Linked DNA regions of Homo sapiens: region 1 is reported to be linked to region 2. The links are microRNA targets in miRTarBase. Many come from high-throughput screens and were not tested one by one. Region 2 holds a microRNA gene; the other region holds the end of a gene's coding sequence.
The links. The annotated mature microRNA hsa-miR-7853-5p reads UCAAAUGCAGAUCCUGACUUC and lies in region 2 at 4,898-4,918, shown strand. An mRNA with a match to its seed (bases 2 to 7 or 8) in the 3' UTR can be bound and repressed. Matches are read on the target gene's strand: a 7mer-m8 pairs with bases 2 to 8, a 7mer-A1 pairs with bases 2 to 7 and ends in A, and an 8mer does both.

Region 1: the mRNA of PLXNC1 is a reported target of hsa-miR-7853-5p. Seed matches in the 3' UTR shown: 7mer-m8 at 9,422-9,428.

What each region holds. Positions count from the first base shown.
Region 1 is chr12:94,298,349-94,315,248 of GRCh38, reverse strand. It overlaps PLXNC1 (plexin C1), which reads right to left. Exons shown (of 31, transcript NM_005761.3): 27 at 16,454-16,617; 28 at 14,192-14,339; 29 at 11,353-11,493; 30 at 11,198-11,272; 31 at 7,574-10,068. The coding sequence ends at 9,964. CEP83 (centrosomal protein 83) reads left to right here. Exons shown (of 17, transcript NM_016122.3): 15 at 2,232-2,335; 16 at 5,142-5,331; 17 at 6,332-7,551. The coding sequence ends at 6,436. Among named protein-coding and RNA genes, the nearest start is that of PLXNC1-AS1, 130 kb to the right of the region's middle. RefSeq lists a silencer at 9,322-9,421 and an enhancer at 10,036-10,915.
Region 2 is chr6:6,167,298-6,174,297 of GRCh38, reverse strand. MIR7853 (microRNA 7853) reads left to right here and starts at 4,863; the gene lies at 4,863-4,994. F13A1 (coagulation factor XIII A chain) reads left to right here. Exons shown (of 15, transcript NM_000129.4): 13 at 6,680-6,840. It overlaps MIR5683 (microRNA 5683), which reads right to left and starts at 4,964; the gene lies at 4,889-4,964. RefSeq lists an enhancer at 4,648-5,313.

The DNA of each region.
Region 1 (16,900 bases), not on the chromosome of region 2:
TACCAAGTACTGGCAAAAATGTAGAACAGCTAGAACTCTCACATATTGCTGGTGGAAATGTAATTGGTAAAACTGCTTTAGAAAACTGGCAGTATCTACTAAAGCTAAAACATGTATACACTATGACCCATTCATAGGTATATACTGAAGAGAATGAGGTACTTAATCTGCGAAAAACATGTTTAGGAATGTTCGTAAAATATTTATGATATCCCCAGACTGGAAAGAATTTAAATTTTCATTAACAGGAAAATGTATAAAATGTGGTATATTTGTACAATGAATGACAACATTGCAATGAAAAAGAAGTACTGTGACAATACATAACCATGGCTTAGTCATATAGATAAAATGTTGAGAAAAAAGTCCAGATACAAAAGAGCATAAATTTATGATTTCTTTCATATGAATGGGTGGATGGATAGACAGATGGACTCCTTAACTGCCTATAAATTCATAAATAAATACTTATGGTGATAAAAACCAGAAGAGTGGTTCCTTTGCCAGGGTAGACAGGAGCATAAGGAAGCCTTCTGAGATGTTGGAGGATGTGGGACAATCAAAGCATGAGAATGAATGCTCGTAGCAGAGTTATTTGTAATAGTCCCAACTGGAAATAATGCAGATAACCCTTAACGGTGTACTGAGTGAATATACTAGGTTATGCAATAATCGTAAGTGGAATATAATATGTGGGAATGAATGAAGTATATCTGTAAGTAACATAAATCTCACTAACAATGTTGAGTGAAATAAAGTCATTAATAAAAGACTACATACTATGATTGTATGTATATGAGGTTCAAAAATAGGCAAAAGTAAACTATAGTTTTGGAAGTAAATTAGTTGGTTACCCTTTCAGAGGATGACAGGGCTAGTGATTGGAAGGGGGAAAGGTAGGGGCCCTTCTGGCATGGCAGTGCTCTTGACCTACAAGGAAATCATGCCAGCATTTGTTTTGTGGTTTTTCTTTGAGCTTTACGTTTCTATTCTATGCATTTTGCTGTAAGATTATACTTCAGTTAAAAAAGAGTTAGAAAATACCTAAAAGGTTTGTAGCGACTAAATGAGTTTTAACATTTTAGGTGTTTTTCTATTAAAAAACAAAAGGCCTGTGTATAAAAACTGAAAAAAAATACTACTTTTTTCCATACACTCCTTTTGCATTTTACCTGGACTTTTCCGTATTGTTTAATGAAACCATACAAGATTTACTTAGGAATTTCTCCCTTTGTATATTGTAAAGTTTAAATTTTTTCCTTTTAAGATTTAGAAAGGCAACTTTTAAACAGATGCATCCATATTTATCTTAGCTTTCTGATCCTTCAGTTTTATTAATTTGGTAGTACTTTATAACTTACAAACGTGCTTGTAATTTTGAATTTTACTTCAGTTCTTTTCTTTTCCTTTTTTGAGACAGAGTCTTGCTTTTTTGCCAGGCTGGAGTGCAGTGGTGCAATCTCGGCTCACTGCAACCTCCGCCTCCCAGGTTCAAGTGATTCTCCTGCCTCAGCCTCCTGAGTAGCTGGAACTACAGGCACCCGCCACCACGCCCAGCTAATTTTTATATTTTTAGTAGAGATGGGGTTTTACCATGTTGGTCAGGATGGTCTCAATCTCTTGACCTTGTGATCTGTCCGCCTCGGCCTCCCAAAGTGCTGGGATTATAGGCGTGAGCCACTGTGCCTGGCTCCCCACCCTTTTTTTTTTTTTTTTTTTTTAATGGGTTCTTGATCTGTTGTCCAGGGTGGAGTGGCACAGTCATAGCTAACTGTAGCCTTGAACTCCTAGGCTTAATCCATCCTCCTGCCTCAGCCTCCCAAAGCACTGGGATTACAGGCATGAGCCACTGTACCTGGCTCAGTTCTCTTAAACACATGCTATCTTCTGGAACAATGGAGAGCTCATTATTTCTTACCAGATGTACAGGCAGACTCAGTAGTAAAATTTGACTCCTTCCCTTTGTAGATTTTTTTTTTGCAGCAATTATTGATAACAGTTTTTTTGTTTGGCATTCATAATTAATTGTCACATTGAGAATATTAGATAGATTTGTGGTTTATTATCTTTGCAATTTTCAGTAAGAGCCATGTCTACTAACCTTTGTTTCTAGTATTCACTGAAAACATTCATATCTAAACACAGTTTTTGGTGAGTAAAATATTTTCTATATAGTTTTGTTCAAATAAGAGATTATGTATTAACATACTTGTTCATATTTCTCTTTTTAGAGAAAATCTCTTCATGAAAACAAATTGAAAAGACTACAAGAGAAAGTAGAAGTCTTGGAGGCAAAGAAAGAAGAATTGGAAACAGAAAATCAGGTCTTAAATAGGTAATGTGTTTGTATGTGTATCTTCCCCATGTGGTTATTTTGATGTCATAGAACTTTGTCTCTAAGTATAACGTACCTTCTTTTCTTTTAAAATATACATTTTAAAGATTTCTAAAACAGCTTGATAACTCCTAATGTACTATCCTTTTTTTACCCCCTAACTGAATGTTTCTTTAAACCAAAAGGTCTCTGTCACATACCAGGTGTTTGCCTTATGATTGGGACTAACAGAAAATGTCACTGGCTTTGGTAGCAAGGAGTGGTGTTAGTTGTTGCTGCTGTACAAGACAGTTGTAGCTATTGCATAGTTCTGAAAATTGTGCCTACAACTTTGAATCAAAGGTCAGTTTTGGTTTCCTGGTGTGGAGATTTTATTGAGCTGTAGTTTCGGGTTTTGCAGTCACATTCAAGCACATCTGATAATCAGGATCATCAGCATTTTTAAAGCAGAGATTTGTCATATTAAGTTGTTGGTAGTGGCATTATATGACACATTTGATTCAAGTTAAGAAAAATCTTTTTAATTTAGTGAATTAGTGGTAGCCTTCAGCGCCTTGGCTATTCAAGTATAGATTTTTCTGTAATGGAAACTGCCTATAATATCATGCAGTGACGTTTTATGATGTGCACTGGTGTTCTTGGGTGCAATTATTACCAACAGGTGAACAATTGTTTTTTAAAGAACATTCTAGAAGTTTCTAGACTGTAGAATTAGTGCCAGCCTTACAATACTCTATTCCAAAGTAGGAGGCCGCCTTTAGTTTATTAATTTGGTAGTAATTTGTAAATTACAAACATGCTTGTAATTTTGAATTTTGTTTCAATTCTTTTTTTTTTTAAACATGGGGTCTTCGTCTATGGTTCAGGGTGGAGTGCAGTGGCACGATCATAGCTAACTGTAGCCTCGAACCCCTAGGCTTAATCTATTCTCCTGCCTCAGCCTCCCAAAGCACTGGGATTACAAGCATGAGCCACCATTCCTGGCTCAGTCCTTCTAAAACAGAATTCAACTTACTTCCTCTTCCATAAACATTAATATTGAAATGTTAGCAATTCAAGATTGGCCAGTTGTGGTGCAGATCATCTAGAATTTTGAGTGATTTTGAAATTATATTTGATTACTGGATGTCGTGTCCAAAAAGATGATGATCTGTGAAGGCCTGGAAAGTTAGCCTTTTTCTCCATGTCATTTTTTCCTAAAGTTGTGTAGCTTCACCTTTGTGATTACCTTTTATAATAGGAAAAACCAGTGTTTTTCCTATTCTCACACAGTCAACACAACATTTCTGACACCAGATGTTTGGGGTTTTTTCCTATACATGGAGTAATCAGTTTTCCAGTGGACACGAGCTAGGTGTCCTGTAATTCAGGTCTGATCCTGTCTACCTGGATTTAGCATCAGATCCCACAGGTAGAGGGCTCAGTCCCACAAGACTGCCCCCCACTTCAGAATGCAGCCATAAGCCCCAAGTTGTAACCCGTGCTTCTGACTGGCTAAAAATGGCCATAAATTGGGGTTCCCATGACCTGCTCATCATGTTCAGTTAATTTGCTAGAGCAGCTTACAGAACTCAGGGAAACTTATGTTAACCAGCTTACTAGAAAGGATATTACAAAATATATAGATGAGCAGTCAGATGAAAGAGATACATAGGAAAAGTTATGAGGAAGGGGGTGTGGAGTTTCCATGCCCTCTCTGGGCATGCCTCCCTGCAGACACCTGCACATGTTCAGCAACCCAGAAGCTCTCTGACCCCATGCTTTTGGGTTTTTATGGAGGCTTCATTACATAGGCATGATTGATTACATCATTGGCCATTGGTGATCAACTCAACCTTTAGTCCTTTACCTTCCCAGATGTCATGGGGTGGGGTTGGAGAGTGGGGCTGAAAGTTCCAACCCTCTAATCATGCCTCAGTCTTTCTGGTGACCTGCCCCATCCTGAAGCTATTCAGGGGCCCCCAGCCACCAGTTATCTTATTAATATACAAAAGATACTCTTATCACTTCAGAGTTTCCCAGAGTTTTAGGAGCTGTGTGCCAGGAACCAAGGGCAAAGACCAAATATATATTTCTTACTAAAATATTACACTGACATTTTGAAAATTAGATTGAACTATGAAAATCTCTATATTTGACCATATTTCACCTATTTAAAAATGGCAATTTTGTAAGCTTCAATCCAGCATTTTCTTTACACTTGACCCTTGACAACATGGGCTTGAACTGCATGGGTCTACTTATATACAGATTTTTATTCGGGCAAACATGGATAGAAAATATAGTATTCACAGGATGTGAAACCCACCAGTTCAGAGAACCAACTTTTCCATTATGAGGGTTCTGCAGGGCTGACTGCAGGACTTGTATGCACAGGCTTTGATATATGAGGGATGTCCTGGAACTAATCCCATGTGTATACTGAGGGATGAACTGTATTTTTATTTGATTCTTTCTGTAAGATAAGGCACTCTTTTGGTTTAGAGTCTCCCTTTAGTTTCAGGATTCATGAATGGGGGTGAGTAGGAGGGTAGGAGTGAGTACCAAAGTATCAAAAGATTTTAGATCTTTAATTAGCAAATAAAACTTTATAATGAGTTGATAGTCTGCAATGCTAATGATTGCTAATGATTAAGATGTTATGTCATGTTTCTGTTTATCTTTCTAGGTAAACAGATTTTTTATCTATATATTATATATAGATCTCATAATTTAGAAATTCCAGTTTAAAATTATATTCTGTGAATCATACTGTGCTTCAATAGGGTATAACCATGTTAAAGAAACATTTCTTTTTCTTTTTAAGACAAAATGTTCCTTTTGAAGACTATACAAGGCTTCAAAAAAGACTAAAAGATATACAGAGAAGACATAATGAATTTCGAAGTCTAATTTTGGTTCCTAACATGCCTCCAACAGCATCTATCAATCCTGTTAGCTTTCAGTCATCAGCCATGGTTCCAAGCATGGAACTACCATTTCCTCCTCATATGCAGGTATGAGCATTTATTTTAGGGGGAAAAAAAAAGTCGTACATTTTTGTAGGTTTTTATGTTTAAATATGGTGATAAAACTCAAATTATAACTTTGGTCAGTGCTCAAAATTCACCACAAAAATGGCATAAACATTTAAAACTACTTTTAACTTCTTCCCTTTCATTTAGCATAGAAATTTGCTGAATTCAGTTTGAATCATGATCCTTTAGTGTTGGTGCTGAGAGTGAAATCTCTTACTGGACGATAGAAAAGAGGAAACTTGATTGAGTCATTGAGTAACCTAGAGTTTGTAGCTTATTCATAATGTTAATAGTAATTACTACTGAGAATTTACTAACGCAGTGAACTGTGCATGTTCCGTGCAATGTCTAATACTAACGAAAAATGCTTTGAGGGCAGATATTACTATTCCTAATTCATAGATAAGGAAACTGATTCAGAGTGAAGTGACTTGCATAAGGTCATAGCTAATAAGTGACAAAGTTTCAAACCTAAACCTGTTGAATCCAAAACCCGGGCTCTTTCTATTGTATCAAGCCCCTGAGGTATTGAAGGAATCAGATTGATTCTTTTTCAGAAGATGGGAGTATTAATAAGTAATTATGTTTTATAACATAAGCACAGAAGATTTTAATCACTGAATTGAATCTCAGGCCAAGTGCTTTGTTTATAATAAACTGCTGTTAAACACCAGTGTTGTTGGAAAGTTACCATGTAAGTATACCTGGGCCCTGCATTAGTATTTTCTAATTCACTCCCTGGTGAATTTTATACCTAGAGAAGAACAGACTACGGGTTTTGCTTAAGGCTAGAGCCTGAGGCAGGAGAGAAGCAAAACTAGATGGTAGTTTAGCCCATGCTACTGTTTTTAGACTGCTACAGTGGTCAGCATTTCCTTGCCAGATGTTATAGGCATATATAAAAGAGGCAGTCCAAGGTTGCTACCTAACAGTTTTTCTAATAGTTTCTTTTGCTATGCTTTCTCTACATCATTTTAAGGAGGAACAACATCAAAGGGAACTCTCTCTACTTCGCAAAAGACTAGAAGAACTGGAAACAACACAAAGAAAACAACTAGAGGAACTTGGATCTTCCGGAGAATGATGTTCTTGGAGAACAGGCAGATCAAAAGAGGTGAAGTTGGTGACTCAGTAAAACTTGACATTTTAACCTGTGGCATTTAGATACTTTTTACTGTTTGCCAAAACACTTGAATGTGCCTCAAGAAAAGGTACCTACTACATGCTGTATTGTATGACTGTCAGGATTTTAAGATTATACAAGTGAAGCATTAAAAGAGAAATTCTCAGAGATATTTAGAATATTTGACAATGGTTTGAGAATGTAAAACAAAAAGGAACTAGTTAGAGTCAAGTTTTAAAATTTTTACTTTGTTGAATTTTTTTTTTTGGCATTTTGAGTGAAATATAACTATCATTAATTCTCTCTTCATCTTTGAGATGCTTGGCCATAACAGGGTCCATACACATCTTCTGGTTTACTATATACAAAAACTGTAGTTGAAAAAAGATGACAATTTAAAAGTCAGCCTAAAGAATGTAAAGGTATCTATATACAAAAGGCTACCTTTTCTAAAATCTGTGTGCACATAATTAAAGAGCTTAATTTTTTTTTAATCGTGTGTTTAATTTTACATCAACCATATAGCATATATTTAGCAATATGACAGTCTACTGATTTTGGCTTTGTTAGAATAGAGAATAAGTGCAAATAATTAAATCCTATGGCTGTATTAACAAGGGGGCCATTGATTATAAAACTTGAACTCAGGTCCTTTTATAAACATTGTTGGTATTTAACTTTACTTCCCATTACTGTGGATCTAACCAAATAATTATGTGTTTTGTGTCCCTAAGTATGCTCTCATTTTTTTTGGTCTACACCCATTGGAAGCCTTTTTAATGTGACATCTTTTAGAGGAATTCTGCTGGAATAATTTCATGTTAACGAGGCTAAAGCTCAAGTCTCCCAAATTAAGTGGAATGTTCATTATCCCAAGGTGTTCATAGTCAAAAGTCCCAGTTGATAGTGAAGAAGGCCAGGACTGTAATTGAGCAGTCCTTAGCACCATTTAGCAAACTAGGTTTACTTACTACATAATATAGCTGCTTATTCACAGCATATACAGTGACACCTTATCTCTGAAAAATAATTTCCACGGAGCCACTTAGAATAAAAAAACTATTATAACTAGAAAATTGAAAAAAAAAAAAGACAGTCCACAGTTACATCAAAATGTTTATTTTTTGGATATAGACATTTAAAACATTCATCTCCAAGAACAGCTTCAATCAGGTATACAATAAGAAATAGACTTTAAATCCTAATACAGAAAAGGTAACAGAATTTTTTTGAATGCTGCTGTAGACACTAGTGTTAGAAAAAAAAGTTTATAAATGGTTTTGCACCAAAAAAATATGCAAAGAAACTTGAAAATAGAAATTGTTTGCCATTTGTTGCTCTGGTTGCTGTTTAATATAGACCCAGTGACTGATTGTCTTCAGCACACATCTAATTTGGCCATTTACTGCATTTGGCTAATGTGATCCAAAATGTGATCTAGATAGTGCTTTTCACTGGAGGATTGACAAACACGCTACATACATTAGTGAATCTTCATACCACCTCAGTGAGGTAGCTTAGAAATATTATACAGAAATTGAGGCACAAAGAGGTAAGTGACTTGCCCAAAGTTCCCAACAGCACAGTCCCTGGAAGAGGAGGTAACTCTCCACACAGGACTCATGTGCCAGAAAGCTGGACAGGGACACCCTCATGTAGCATTTAGTAAATACTTAGATAAAGCTGTAGCTGATCCTTTGAGTTTTCAGTACCCTAAAGTAGTAGGGGAAGTCTTTTGGGCAACTCTCCTACCCTTGGCTCTCAACTTTCCTACTGTTGTTCTCTTATGAACTCCTTCACCTCTTTGAAGACTGTAGCAGCCTTCAATGGGGACCAGACCTCTCACCTTTATTCTGATCTGTCATCTATTTGGTAGTTTTGTTTGTTTGAGGTGTGTCCGTTGGACAGACAATGGTCAAAAGCAACAGGATTGGGAAGGTGCCTATCAGGGTAGTAACTGCTTATTTTCTCTGATCAGTTTGTTGAGGTGTCACCTCTCTCATGCTTTTCCAGATAATACAGAAGCAAAAAGGAATTGCCTTTAAGACAAATTCATATTTAAATCCTAATGCTCCATACAGTGTTGGTAAATGATTTCAAGGAATATGTGATCAATGTTATTTGACTTGAAAAAATTTTCTTTCCTAGATGGGGGATTTGGAGCACCAAGGGTAAAAGGTGCCTGCCACAAGAAAAGCTCAAGAGTTGCCAATTATGCTGTTTACTTCTTCTGGTTTAATAGAAGGAAAACACAGTGGTATTAAAACTGGTCATGAGCAGCAAAAATTCAGGAATTAAAAAATCAGCACTAAAAAGACTACAGTATAACTGGATAGAGAATTCTTTAAAAAGAAAGGCATGAATAAAATGGGTATTTTAAATTCTTTCTCCTGCGAGGAATACTTTCAAAAAGTACATAGTAAGACTAAGATACCAAGTTGTATACTAATATTTTTCAGGCCTTGGGCCTCAAATATATATATTTATATATAATACTCCAGTGTGAACAGCAATTCGATAAAATGTAAAATGTATCTTTTTTTTTTTAAATCACACACAAGTATTCATAACCACAGGGTTCACCAGAAATCTAAAGCAAGGAGACACTCACTCATATAGAAATGGAGTTACTCTTCCACAGATCGTTCTGATCAAAGGTTTTGGAACAGAAATGAATTAATGATTTTTTTGTATAATATCCAACATGTCCACTATCAAATACATTTAGTATGAAAAAACAGATGAAGAAAAGGAACATACATTAGGACAAAGTATCTGGTTAAAATGCTGTTCATTTAAATAAAGCCCACTCTCCTTACTTTAGAGCTCCTTGGTGAAATGGAGGTGAGTTTGATGGAGTGCAGTTGATGACCACTGAAAAACACGAGCCCTTTCAACAATGTTGCAACACTGTTAGTTTTTGGTTTAAACACACACACACACTCACAAATGCTAAGTGTACACTACCAAATTCTGCGGTCAGCTTTTCCAAGAACTACTGGGGAAAGTTTCAATGCTGCAAATCCTCGAGGTTGCCCTAACACCCCCACCTTGTTTCCAAATGACTCATTTCACATTTTGTTTTGAGCACTGGCAGTATCCCTTTACAATGCAGAGGTGCAGTGTAGCACAAGTGCTACATAGCTGTAGTTTTCAAACAAAACCACTTATATCATTGTGCTTAAGTGGAGACTGTAGTTACAATACTGACATTCGCTTACTGGCCTTGTATTCTCTGTAAACAAGGAGGCTGTTTGCAACAACCACTTCAACTCTATTTACAGAAGGGTTCCCACGGTATACACACAGGCACAAGGGTTGGTATGCTTTCTAAAAGCTGTGCATGTGCCTTGGTCTCTTAAAAAGACAGTGCCCAAAGTGGAACCTATGTGCAAACAACAAATTAACGACACAGAGTAGCTCAAGCAGCCATTTTGCTCCCAAGTCGTCTGAAGAACTTTGCCAGATTAAGCCAGGCCCCAGAGTGCTTACATCCACTTGCATTTCTTCTTTTCATCAAATAAGACTTTTACATGCAAGAGTTGTTTCTGAGCTTCTTCCAGCCCTCGTTCTCTTTCTAGTTTATTTAGAATCTGTTGACAATTAGAACAGTTATTTTAGATATTGTGGTTTTAGCGTTACAATTCTGTTTTTTGCATACCTGATGCTGTGAGTGGTAAAATCTGTATGAAACAGATGCCAACATTTTCTTCCATCATTTACATACTCACTTTGCAAGTTGTTTTGCTAAGTCCTTATCACAGGATCAACAATACCTTGGCTTAAAATAGAAGCTCGCAAGAAATACCAACTATTTGCTTACAAATATGGGGCCAGGCTTCCTAGGCCCTGCTTTATGCATTATGTCACAGCCATTCCAAGCACAGCAAGCATTCCTGGGCAGCCAACATGCAGGCAAGTATTTCTCCTTAAATGCAGCAGGCAGGGACATCCTGGTCAGAGACAGATCCTTCCCTTCCCTCCCATCTGGGCAGTGTAGTCCCTCCTCGTGCTTCCCTTCTCTCCCCTGACCCCTGGAACGAGGGATGCTTATCATGTTTAAGAACTCATTGCCTCTACCCTACCTTAGAGCTTCACTTCATCTTCAAGTAGCAAATGGAATTGGTGAGCTATTCTCACCATTGACATGGATAGCCTGTCCCAGCATGATTGGGGGGGAATCAGGGAAGGGGGAGTTAACATTTGTTTGGAAACAAAGCATCTGATGAATGTGTCTGTTTGAATTTCCAAAGAAAAAAACCCAGATTAAGGAGAATTAATCATAAAGGAGAATGGTTTATTGAAATAGTCGCTTAAGTTAGAAATATGTCATAATTTCATATAACGATTGAATACAGAATCTAGGCAATTTAACAAGCTTAGCTTTCATTTTTAGCAAATTACAATCAAGCATAAGCTGACCCCATTTAATAGGGCCACTACTTACTCATCAAAGTTAACTTGAGTCAGGGTGGCTGTAGGCCCCATGAACTCAAATGTAAATTCAGGCTGGTCCAAATGTGGGCAGCATGATAAAACTGTAAGGGGGGCAGCCATGTACAGGGTCTGGCTCAGTGCCAGGATCCCCCATCTCAGACAGGCTTCCTGGCTTCCCTTTCTGGCCTTTTGGGATGCCAGAGCTGTTCTGAAACTGACAGAATGCTATAACCACATCCTTGTGCCTGATTCAAAGGTTAAAAACAATGTTATTTAAAATCTTACCTCATCAAAATATTTTACGATGTATTTGTAAATTTCTGTCAAGGCCACTTCTTCATTAAATTCATTTTCATGTTTCTAAAAGAAAGACTTGTTGAGAGATTCTGAAATGACGTAAAGTAACCAAATATAAGCTTATTTCTGCTTTCTAATGATACCTTAGATTCCTGAGTTAAAAATTCTTCCATTTCTGAGGATGACAATGGAGGCAAATCCCTGATTGCTTTGTAATAAGATTTTACTTCTTCTTTGTAGGTTGGGATATCCTTGGCATAGAGAAGCTTATTAGTTGGTGCTTCCTGGGGAAAAAAAAAAAAAAAAAGCAACCATCACCAAAAGAGTAAAAAAAAAAAAAAAAAAAGATGGAGGAATTTATAATATTCCAATGTAGCTGAACCCCCACCACCAACCAGTTTTACCTCTTGCTAACAAGGCTTCATGCAGTAGGCCTTAAATGTTGTTGACTGAATGACTGACTGCTATCTAGATAGTTCTGGTGAGTCACTGTTATTTTCAGGCAGATTAAATGCTAATATATTCTGCCTTCCTCTCATAAAAGAACTAAAATTATTATTTTTGCATGATTTTGAGTTACTGTAACAATGGAACTTATTTCAATCATAGTTCATTACTAATGGTTGTAAAAAGCCTGAATTAAAACATTTGCTCTCATCCTCACCCACCAGTGAATTTGGCATTTACAAAAGACTTGATTGTAGGTCTGATTGAGCCCTTTATATAACCATGAAACTGGTAAGTAATTGGCAGAGGCAGATTTTCCAGCTTGTCCCTTTTATTTCATTAGATTATAGACATCATCCAGTTTCTTCAGGGAAGCACATGGTCATTAGTATTGGTGGCTCTGATGTGTGATTTTGCAGAGGTTCTCTGGCAATTTGAATGATTCTACGTAATTATAACAGTGATATTTAAAAATTAAATATGATTTTATTTTTAAAAATCATTATTTTTCACAAAACTTTAAAAAATTCTACTCAGGGAAGATAGGTAAGTTAATGATAGGGCTAATGTCCCAGCCCATGAGGCTGAATCAATGGCTTGATGAATCATTCTGAAGGATGCCTAGAGACTGAGATATTATTGAGATTTTCTCATTTGTCAAATTTAAGTGGAACCCAGAAATCATGCTATCATTCATTCATTCAATAAACATTATTAAGCACTGGAGCAGGCATTGAGAGTACAATGATAAAGACTAGTGGCTGCCCTTGAGAAGCTTACAATCTAGTTGCAAAGACAGATTTATGAAGTGCTTACTATGATACAAATAATTAGCAGCAGTAGTTGACAGAAAGAGTTGGACAAATCAGAAATCATAATTCTGCTACTTTGTGTGGTTTCAGGCAAGACTTGTAACCTCCCAGAACATCAATTTTCTCATCTATAAAATGAGGGTAATAATAACTACCTTATTTGGTACTTGTGAGGATTAAGTGAAGTGTGTCAAGAACATAATTCATAAACAACTGTTTTTAGTGTGAACAAACATTTAAGTGCCTTTCAGTGTGCTGCATGCTAAGATGAACTTTATTAGTCAAATGAAGAAAGTGCTGTAGGAAATATATTGGGGAAAGTTCACAAAGTAGGCATATGTAGACTGATCTGAGTCTCCTACAGTTTCTGGTCCTCATTAGGAAATCATATTTGTCGAATGAATAAAATGTTTATGATGAATGAATGGGTAGGATTTTACTAGACAGAGGGACTGTGAGACAGGAAAGATGAGCAAAGGGGTGTGAGAACAAGTTCATGGTGTGAACTTGGGAAAAGTAAAAGCTGTAGCACAGTGGGTATGTGGGGCGTGCAAGAAAATAACGAGGCCAGCAAAGAGGGCTGAAGCCCATCAGGAAGCACTATGTGGCACTGTGAAGACTTTAGCTGGTAGGTAATGGGAAATAGTTGCAATTTTTAAGAAGCAGACTGACATCATCAGATTTATGTTTTAGAAAGATTACCTGAGAGACAGTGAAAAGGAAAAGTTTAGAAGGAAAGGTGGACAGCAGGGGCAAGGACACCAATTAGGAAGCAGTTATCCCAGTAGGGACGGGATGAAGGGATAAGGCTAAGTGATAAGGCTAAGGAAGGAGGAGGGAGCGACAGACATTTGAGACAGAAGTAAGTGGTAACCAATAATTTGGGGATAGAGGTTGGAAGGAAGAGGAGTCAAAGATAACGTTGAGGATTCTACCTTGAGAGACTAGGCAATGCTAGGGAAGACAAAAGTAAAAACAGGTTTGTTTTGCAGAAATACTGCTGATAAAGAGTTTAGATTATGACTGGGAGTCTGAGGCACCTGTGGAACATCAGTCTCCATTCATTCCAGGTACTCTTAAAGTCCTGCCCAAGAACTCCTCCTCAGTGTTCAAAGATCCATTAGGCACAGATATTGCTCAGTTTAGTATATTTTGGAGCGCTCAAATAAGACCAAAACATCTCTTTCGAAGTTTGCTCTGATTTTTGTCTTTCTTTGAGTTCTTGGGACTATTGATCAGCAAAGAAAACCATAGGAAAACAGTACTCATGCTTTGATTAGAAACTGACAAACTGGTATTGTTAGAAATCTTGAGCAAGATTTTGTGTCCCATAAGCAATGTGTTATATTCAAATAGGCATTTTATGTATATTCAAATAGAATTGATTTAGGCAAATTTCAATGGTTGCATATTTTGGGTTAATAGTTTATCAGTGTCCATAGAATATTTTTCTAGGAAACAAAACGCATACTTTGTGATAAAGTTTTTCACAGGCAGAATTCTGCAGTTGGGTGGGGCTAATTATTTTGTTTTTCACTTTAAAAAAATTAGATTAAAAATAATGAGACAGATTTTAAATAACAGCAAATTGACAGTGGCCCTTGCTATCTCTTTTTAGCTGGTGTAGTTTAGACCAATTGTTTATTATTTGAATGCTTATCAGAAAGACAAGTATGTCAAACTCATAAGACTGCATACAAGAAATACTCAAGCTGGGCCTTACCTTCCCTAGTTGCTGCTCTGTGAGAGAAAATGCATCCATGAATGCCTGGGCAATCACTGACAAACAGCCGTCTATATGTGGTGTCTTCTTAATGTCAAAGACAAACTGAGGGTTCTTCAGGATGTTTACCCAGAAGCGAAGAGGAAGGCTGTTCAAAGAGAGAATAATCTCTTTTCAAATAGGGCCATTCATGAAGCCAATGGTCTGTTTATCACAGTTTGTAAACGGGTGTTTTTGTCCTTGTTATTGAAGTATACAACTCTGCTTAGCCAAACATACCAAGCAACAGACAGAAGCGTCACTTGGAGAGAAGAAGAAAGGGTTAACTGGCAGAGCTACTGTAAAAGAAGGATAGAGGAGGGTAAGTTTGAAAGTGGCCATGGGCAAGAATTTTCTCCAGATAGCTCTTGATTATAATCTCTCTCACCTGGATTATTTCCCATCTCCTGACAGTTTGTTCTCACATAACTATCAGCAGTCCTCTCAACACAGAATCAGACCATGTCTCTCCTCTGCTCCAACCCTCTGAGGCTCTCCATCTCCCTCTGGATAACACCCTGCATGACCTGGCCCTCCTATCCCACTGCTCCTCACCGCGCTCATTCCAACTCTCCTGTTCTCCTTGCTATTTTTCATATGGGCCAAGCAAGCACGTGCCTCACAACTTGTGCTCTTGGCGTCTGTCTGCCTGAAACTTTCTTGCCTCAGGTAGTCTCATGGTTTATGCCCTCTCCTCTTTCAAGACTTGGTTCAAGTGTCACCATCTCTGTGAGGCCTTCTCAGATCACCTAGTCCTGACACATACTAGCCTCCTTTCCTACTTTCTCCACTGCACTCATCATCTGCTAATGTGCTACTGTTTGCATATTGCATTTAGTGTCTGTCCCCAACTATTAGAATGGGACCTGGACTTTCATCTGTTTTGTTACTATATCTCCAGCAACTAACTGCTTGGCCCATAGTAGGTACTCAAATACCCGAACATGAACTTGGGACTGGTTCAAAGTCCTTCCATTATCTCCTTTTCAACTCTGGCCTAGCTCATTACCTCCCCCATATGCTGCTAGGTCTCCCAACAGCTCTACTGTCCTGGCTGCTGCCCCTGCTCAGATGCCATAATCTTCAAGGTGGAATGGTGGCCCTCAGCTCCCAGTCTTGATGTGGGAGTGGCAGGGACTGGAGATAAGAGGCTAGAACAGGCCAGGGGCAGTGGCTCACACCTGTAATCTCACTACTTTGGTAGGCTGAAGCAGGAGGATGGCTTGAGTCCAGGAGTTTGAGACCAGCCTGGGCAGTGTAGTGAGACCTCATCTCACAAAAAGTTTTAAAAGTTAGCTGAGTGCGGTGGCATGCTCGTGTAATTCCAGCTACTTGGGAAGCTGAGGTGGGAGAATTGCTTGAGCCCAGTAGGCAGAGGTTGCAGTGAACCGAGATCCCACCACTGCACTGCAGCCTGGGCAACAAGAGTGAGACCCTGTCTCAAAAAAAAAGAGGCTAGAACACAGGAAGAGAAGGGAGCAAGCCAGCGTAGAGAATTGGGATAGGCCTGGATTAAATGGGAGATTAGACCTAGAGGAACTTCAGCTTTTGATACTCATTTAAAGTGACCTGGCTGCCCTCAGTGCCTGGAAAGCCTTGAGCTTGCACTGAGAAGTTCTACTTCATCATAACTCTGAGTCTTATCCAGCCCATGCACACAGCATTTCAAAGAGAGCTCATGAGCTACATTTCTTTACTGAGGAGGCAAAATTTGGATGCCTTGCCTGTCCTTAAGGTAAAATATTAAAATATAAAACAAAACACAAACTTTTGGCTAATTCTCATAGTATCTGAGTACTGCACTTGATAAATTTCTGTACAGAATCAGAGTATAGACAGCTTGGAGACTGCAAAGTAACCGATTAGGAACAAAAAATGGTTTATCATAAAATTTTCTCTAATGCAAAAATGATATAAAACCACAAATGTTAATTTCTCATTCTTTACTGGTCAACTTAAATTTCTTTTAACATTCTAGACAAAGTATCATGCACCAAAGATAACAGTTTATCTTCAAGAACAGGATTCTTGGCATAGGAATGGTTTCCTTTATTGTTTAAAAATAGTAACAGAATAAGAAACTACTTTGACATGATAGCTTACCAAGCCCAAAGATTCTGATATAGAGATAAATGAATCCTTCTATAACTATCTATGTCTTTCTTTTAGTTAATATTCTGTCCCAGATTCTTGAAAACAGTCACTAATCACCTACATTCCCACCTGTTTGTTTTCCAAATATGTACGACGTCAGGATCTGTGATTTTTTTGTTTTCAGCCTGGGCGTCCAAAAAGTCAAAAAAGTATTTTATAGCAAATGGAGCTCTGCTGTTGGGTAAACTCCAAATGCTTCTAAAAAGTTTTTCAAGCACAGAATGAATTGCCACCTGAAAGATAGACAACATCAGATTTGGGAGATTAAAAACTGTGGTAGTGGTTTTGAAAACATAATAGCAAAAGCAAATCCACATTCAGAGAAAATAATGTTCAAAACAGGGAAAAACAAACTGAAGAGAAAAATGTAAAATTGTCAAATGTGGCCAGTGCTCACAGTATAGGTCAAAAGTCTTGAAAATCCATGCCCAGGTTTAGATTTGGTTCATAAGCTTCTTGCTGATAACATTGTTTAGTCAACTGGGAGGATATCAGAAATCTCTAGCAGTTGAAATG
Region 2 (7,000 bases):
CTGCCTCAGCCTCCCGAGTAGCTGGGATTACAGGCACATGCCACCACGCCAGGCAAATTTTTGTATTTTTAGTAGAGACGGGATTTCACTATGTTGGCCAGGCTGATCTCAAACTCCTGACCTCAGGTGATCCACCCACCTCGGCCTGCCAAAGTGCTGGAATTATAGGCGTCAGCCACCGCACTCGGCCCAAAAGCCTCCACTTTCATCCTCACGTCTCATGCACAGAAGTGAACATTGAAAATTTCAAAGCCTAGAGCCCCATGAGTTGTGAGAATTAAATGTAACTTCTTGCTACTCAAAGTGTGGTCCATGAGCCAGCTGCATCAGCATTCCCCAGGAGTTTGAAAAAAATGTAGAATCTCATGTCCCACCCCACACCCTCTGAATCAAAATCCATGTTTTGACAAGATCCCAAGCAGACTGGAGTGTACAGGAGAGTTTGTGGAGCATGGATCTAAATGATCCATCTCAGAAACAGGCCCTCTGCTGGTGCCTCTCGCCCAAGTTAGGAAAGTCTTTTGGGGGCTGTCCAGAATGAATAGTGTGCTTTGCTTTCCCATTCAAAAAGATACACGCGCTGACATAGGCCGCTTCTTAAAACGCTGTCTCCTGTAATCTCAGCACTTTGGGAGGCTGAGGTTAGCGGATCACCTGAGGTTAGGAGTTCGAGACCAGCCTGACTAACATGGTGAAAACCCATCTCTACTAAAAATACAAAAATTAGCCCGGCGTGGTGGCAGGCACCTGTAGTCTCAGCTACTCAGGAGGCTGAGGCAGGAGAATTGCTCGAACCCGGGAGGCGGAGGTTGCAGTGAGCTGAGATCGTGCCACTGCCCTCCAGCCTGGGTGACTGAGCGATACTCCGTCTCAAAAAAAAAAAAAAAAGAAAAGAATGGAGGCTGGAAACAAAGCTGTGTCATCTAGGAGGGGCCTAGGAAGAGGTTTTCTGCCTCTGCCATCTCTTGTGGGGCCTCTTTCTCGTCCTTGCATGCACATCCTTCCAAGCATTTTCATCACTGTAAAAACTCAGAATATTTTAAGCAGATCAGGGTCCACGTGCTACAGCTTGCCTTGGGGATTACAATCTCAAAAAATCACATTTCCTAGGATGTTCGTATTTGGTGGGCACAACAGTTGACCACACGATGGGCAACACAAGTCCATTGGAAGAAACTGGTCTCTAGGCAGAGAATGAGTTAGAGCAGGTTGCAAAGGACCTCGATACTTTGGGGCACCAATTTCTGTTGGCCTGACATGGGGCACTGAAGAGAAAAGTGTACAAATAATAATTTTGACAAAGCAAAGGCAAGCAAAACTAATACGCTCCCCTGGGATGGTCAAGCCACAAGTCTGAATTGCTCTCAAGCTCTCTGGATTTTGTGGCTGTCACAGATCATGGTCCCCTTACTGAGGTTTTGGAAAATATTCCCAGAAAAATGAGAAACTATTTTTTAAAATCCTAATTCCAAGGAACTTACTCAAATTTGAAGGAAGCAAATCTCCCCAGCTTCAGTAATGGAGCTAACAATTAAGAAATCACTATAGTGGGGCCAGGCATGGTGGCTCATGCCTGTAATCCCAGCAGTTTGGGAGGCTGAGGCGGGTGGATCAACTGAGGTCAGGAGCTCGAGACCAGCCTGGCCAACATGGTGAAAGCTCATCTCTACTAAAAATACAAAAAATTAGCCAGGCGTTGTGGCAGGTGCCTGTAATCCCAGCTACTTGGGAGGCTAAGACAGGAGAATCACCTGAACTCAGGAGGTGGAGGTTGCAGTGAGCCAAGATCGTGCCACTGCACTCCAGCCTGGGGGACAGAGCAAGACTTCATCTCAAAAAAAAAAAACACTATAGTGTTTTCTTTGGAAACTAAAAGCTTTGGCACTTTTCCTATTCCTAGGGTAGTAAAGGTAATTTTCATGGAAAAGAATAGTCAGTGTAAAGGACTGAAGAGGACAACAGTCATGGGGATTGTTTAAAACAGGCAGCCACATTTGATTTCAGAGAGTTTTGCAAATAGACAATTCTGGATGTAAGCGATGACTGTGTCACCTACCAGCTGTGTTTCCTGAGCAAGGTACTTAAGCACTCTGAGCTGTCTCTCCTCATCTGCAAAGGGGAAAAACAGCACACACACCCCGGGGTTCTTGATTCATTCCCCTAACCTTTATTTAGTGCTTGCAAGTCCAGGTTCTGTTTTATGCTGGAGACACAGCAATGCCTATTCTTACTGAATTTCTGATCTCATGGGGGAACCAAACAAACAAGTGAATCTATAGTATAGTTATATGGGTAATAGAAAAATACAAAGCAGGTTAAGGAAAACGGGGAGTACCTGTGGAGATGGTCAGAAAAAAAACCCTCTCTAATGGGGTGACATTTAACAGAGACCTGAGTGAAGGTCAGAAGTGAGCATTCCAGCCAGAAGAAACTGTATGTGCAAAGGCCCTGGGGCCAGAGCATGTCTGATGTGTTCAATGAGCAGGAAGGAGCCAGAATCAGGAACAAAGGTGGCAAGGGGGCAGTGCTGGGTGCAGACCATATAAAGAATTGTAGGCCTTTATAAGGCCTTTGGTTTTTATTTTGAGTGAGCTGAGGAGCCTTTAGAGAGTTTTGAGCAGAAATGTGGCATAATCTAACTTAGGTTTTGAAAAGACCACTGGCTGCTGTGTTGAGAAGAGACTAAAGAGGAAGTAGGGCGGAAGGTTAGAGACTGGTAGGATGCTTCTGCAATCACTCCACTGAAAGGGGTTGATAGCAGTGATGGAAGCAGCGAGAACCAGTCCGATCTGGGCATGTGCTGAAGGTGGAGCCCGCCTGATTGGCTGAGAGACTGGATATGTGGTGTGAGAGAAGGAAGGTATGGAGGAAGCCAAATGAGTGATGAATGTGAAATGTGTGCCACATGGTAGAATCTTAGTAAATGGTAACTTCCAACATGTTTACATTTGGGGAAACTGAAGCTCGAGAGATGAGTCGATGTGTTCAAGCCCCCACACAGCAATGAGAGGCAAAGCAGATAATAGAGTAGACAGATAATAGCAGTGACAGTGAGCCAGTTCAGGGTAAACTTGGCCCCAAGTGGGCCAGGTCCCTTCCTTGTGCTCCCATTACCTGGAGTCTAGCACAGATCCTTAGACAAAGAACCAAATGCCAGCCCTTTTCCCACCTCACAAGTGTCCTGTCTCATAATCTCCTTCCCCTTCCCTCTTTAATCCAATTAAAGAATGAGCTTGTATGGGTGAGTAGAATGATATCATTCTCTCAGTCATCGACCTAGGGACAGCTGACCAAACCTATGCCTGAGTCCATAGGAACACATCTCCCATTCGCTTGGCCAGCCCCAGGTTGTCCTGAATAACTTGAAGGGAACTGGAGACTCTTTGTTCCTTTGCCCTGCAGGCAGGTGGTATTAACTGTGACCAATAAATTGTATATTGAAATATAAATTAAATTGCAGTGTATTGCAAAAAGCCACATAACTTCAGGCCTTGATCAAGCATTCTTAGATGCCTCTGCTGCAAAGAAAGCTTTCCAAGTAGAATGGGAGGCATACTTTCCAGATTGATGATTAAAGGGAATGTGTGTGCTGGAATCAGCTTGGGAGATCTGAATAACTTAAACCTCTCCGTACCTTCAAAGGTGCTATCATTTCCACTTGGCTATATTTAGTTTTCTTTGCTTTTTGGAAAAGAGATGAGGCAGCTCCAGTCTGTGTCTCCCTTGGCTTTCCCCAGACACCGTAAATGATATTGGCAGCATCCCAGCCCTACCGCTCATAGAGCGAAAACCTATTCCTCCTTCTCCTGCCACGTTTAATAAACTTTATCTAGAACAATTTCTTGTGCAGTGGCAAAACACAGCACTTACATAACATACTATTTCAGAAGCACTGTTCTCTTGGGCTCTGAAGCACAGCCTGGTTTCTTTAGTGCTATGATTTAGGGAGTGTTCTACCTCAGAGAAGAAAGGGGTCCTGATACTGAGATTATAAAGGTAGCAAGAGCCTCTGTAAAGAAATCATATCCCATTAGCCAAAAGAAATCCAGTGGTCAAACATAGTCCTCTAGAAATAGTCAGAAGAAGTCATTTTATTATTGTTATTACTGGAAACAGCTAGAGGCAAAAGGCATCTTCTTCGAGGCCTTCCACCTTGCCACTTCATCCATTCTATCTAGAGACACGATAAACTGACCATTTGTGCTCATCTGAGGCTGTAACCAATAGAGGGCCAGAACCTCACTCATCTAAACAATTAATTGCAAGGGGAGCCATGGAGGAAGCAGGGTCCAGGCTTAGGTCCAAAGACAGCAATACGAGAGCGGGTCATTCCAAAAGGCAGGACCTGGGGGCCAAGGTCAAGGCAAGGTCATAGCTTTAAAGAGTCAGCTCTAAATGGAATAGCTCTGCCCCAGGAATCAAGCCAACAAAGCTAGCTCTTTAGCGCTTGCCCAAAATAGGCCAATACATTCTAATAATCCACCTGCCCTATGCGGGGTTTCTTGGTTTCAGCACCATTGACATTATGGGCTGGATACTTTGTTGTGGGACTATCCTGTGCATTGTAGGATGTTTAACTGCATTTTTGGCCCCTATCCACCAGATTCCAGTAGTAACCCACCCTCCACCCCAGTTGTGACAATCAAAAAGTTCTCCAGACATTGCCAAATGTCCCCTGGGGATAACATTGCCTCCTATTGACAACTACTAGTCTAGGATGACCAACCTTTCTAGTTTTCCAGGGATTGATGGGGTTCTCAGGATGCAGGCCTTTCAATTTAAAACCCAGGTAGTTCTCAGTCCACCCTAACTCTGCCCTAACTTACCCCTTCTGCTGTTAGAACCTCCTGTCTCTCAGAGTATCTCACACTTCAATAGGCATTGTCTGGGGTCTTATTCAAATGCAGATCCTGACTTCACTGGTGCAGTAAGAAGTCAGAGAATCTGCATCTGTAACAAGCTCCCAGGTGATGATGGTGCTGCTGGTGTGCAGACCGCAGGAGGAACAGCAAAGACCTGGACTGGAAAGCCATCCCTTCCACTGGAACCCAGGCTGTCTGCAGGGCTGATTCTACAGGGATGCCCCTGGTTGTTGGAGTGGCCCTTCTCAACCCTGGCTGCACATCAGAGTCAGCTGCAGAGCTGTTAAAAATACAGATGTCTAGGTCCTCCAAGGCTCTGATTTAATTGGCCTGGAATGAGAGCCAGCTTGGTAGGTCTTTAAGGGTCCCCAGGTGATTGTGATATAGAGCCATGACTGAGAACTCTTCAATCAGAAGTCCTGGAAGCAAGGCACAGCACTTACGCATCTGTAAAGAGACTTCCAAATAGAAGTGCTGCCCAAGACAGAGGCTTTCCCAGCCTCTTGGTCTTCAAGGTCCAGAGCAAGCTGCTGCAGATCCATCGCAGGTGTGAGAGTTCCTCCACAGATGATGGGCATGGCTCAATGCACCCACACCTTCGAGCCAGTGGGGAGTCAGGGGCCCTGCCCTCTGCTCTGGTGCATGCCCATCCACAGGCACCCCACCCTGCTGCAAAACTGCTGTTCAGTACAGCAGGCTAAAATGAATTACCCTCTGTGCTCAAACTGTTGGCCATGAAGCTGTTTCCTTCAATAACTTCCACAGGAAGGGGAAGTCTTTGGCAAAAGCCAGAAACTGAGAAGGAAAGCAGTAAAGACATTCAGTTCTGTGAAGGTTCATAGAGTCTGTTCTCTGTGGCTGGGGATGGAGGAATGAGTCACCCATTCACCTGCGGAGTCTGCCAGCTGTCGGCACATACAGGCATCTGGCTCCAACCAGGTAGCAGTGGGTGCACACCTGGGCTCAGCCTACAGAAAAACTGCCCATTGCTCTCTAGAATCCTGGACAGTGGGAAATGGGAGTTAGAGAGAAAGTGAGCCAGAGCCACAAGATAGAACTCACCATCCTCAGCCCAGATGGTAATTGGAGGGGAGCCAGGACCACTCTCCATCTTCCAAATGCCATTCTCATTGGCTTGTCCCCAGGACCTAGAAATCTGACATCAGTGACTGGTTTCCATTGAGAAAACAATTGTTTGGCACAGAGGTCTTCTAAATCACAAACAGAGGTTCGGAGATAGTTGAATGCCTTTGGTAGAAACTGGTTTCAACAGCTTCCTTCTCTTAAATAGAAAAATCATATCAGATTGGAGAGAAAATGTGGAATGCTACAGAGAAAATGTGTAGGTAGTTGACAATTTAGTCTGAGTGTGGCCCATGGCCTAGGTGAGACACTTCTTATTTGACAAGGGATCCTATGTGGAATGGGGGCCTTGGACTTCAGCACCCCACATGTTCCATTTTGGGATGATCCCGGCCCAAATCAAAGCCACCATTAAAACCCATTGGTCCTTCTTTGCCATGAAAATCACATCTTTTCCATGGCATTTCTTTTACAACAGCAAAAGAACTGTTTGGAAGGTTTGACACATTTTCTCCAGTGAGACTTCAATGAATATTAAATTTCCAGCACATTCTTTACCTAAGAAGCAGGACAGCTTATCCCCAATTGACTCTTTGTTCCACTTGCCCCTTACCTTTGCTGTGTTCCTGGTGGCTTCCAGGCTAATGTGGGAGGGGTAGGGAAACTTGGAGAAAAGTAAAGCAGACCCTGTCTCAAGTCTTGATGCCAGGCCTGTGTGTGTTTTCTCCTACTAGTCAAGAAAGAGGCGGTGCTGATCCAAGCCGGCGAGTACATGGGTCAGCTGCTGGAACAAGCGTCCCTGCACTTCTTTGTCACAGCTCGCATCAATGAGACCAGGGATGTTCTGGCCAAGCAAAAGTCCACCGTGCTAACCATCCCTGAGATCATCATCAAGGTCAGTCTTAGCGTCTCATCCTGGAACAGAGACAAAGGCACGCAGACTTAGTGTTCATGTGTGCATATGCGTGCTTGTATGTGTGTGTGTGTGTGAATGAATGTCCTGCTCAAAAAAAAAAAAAAAAAAAAATACCAGTGCTAGGATCCTCTTGTTCTTT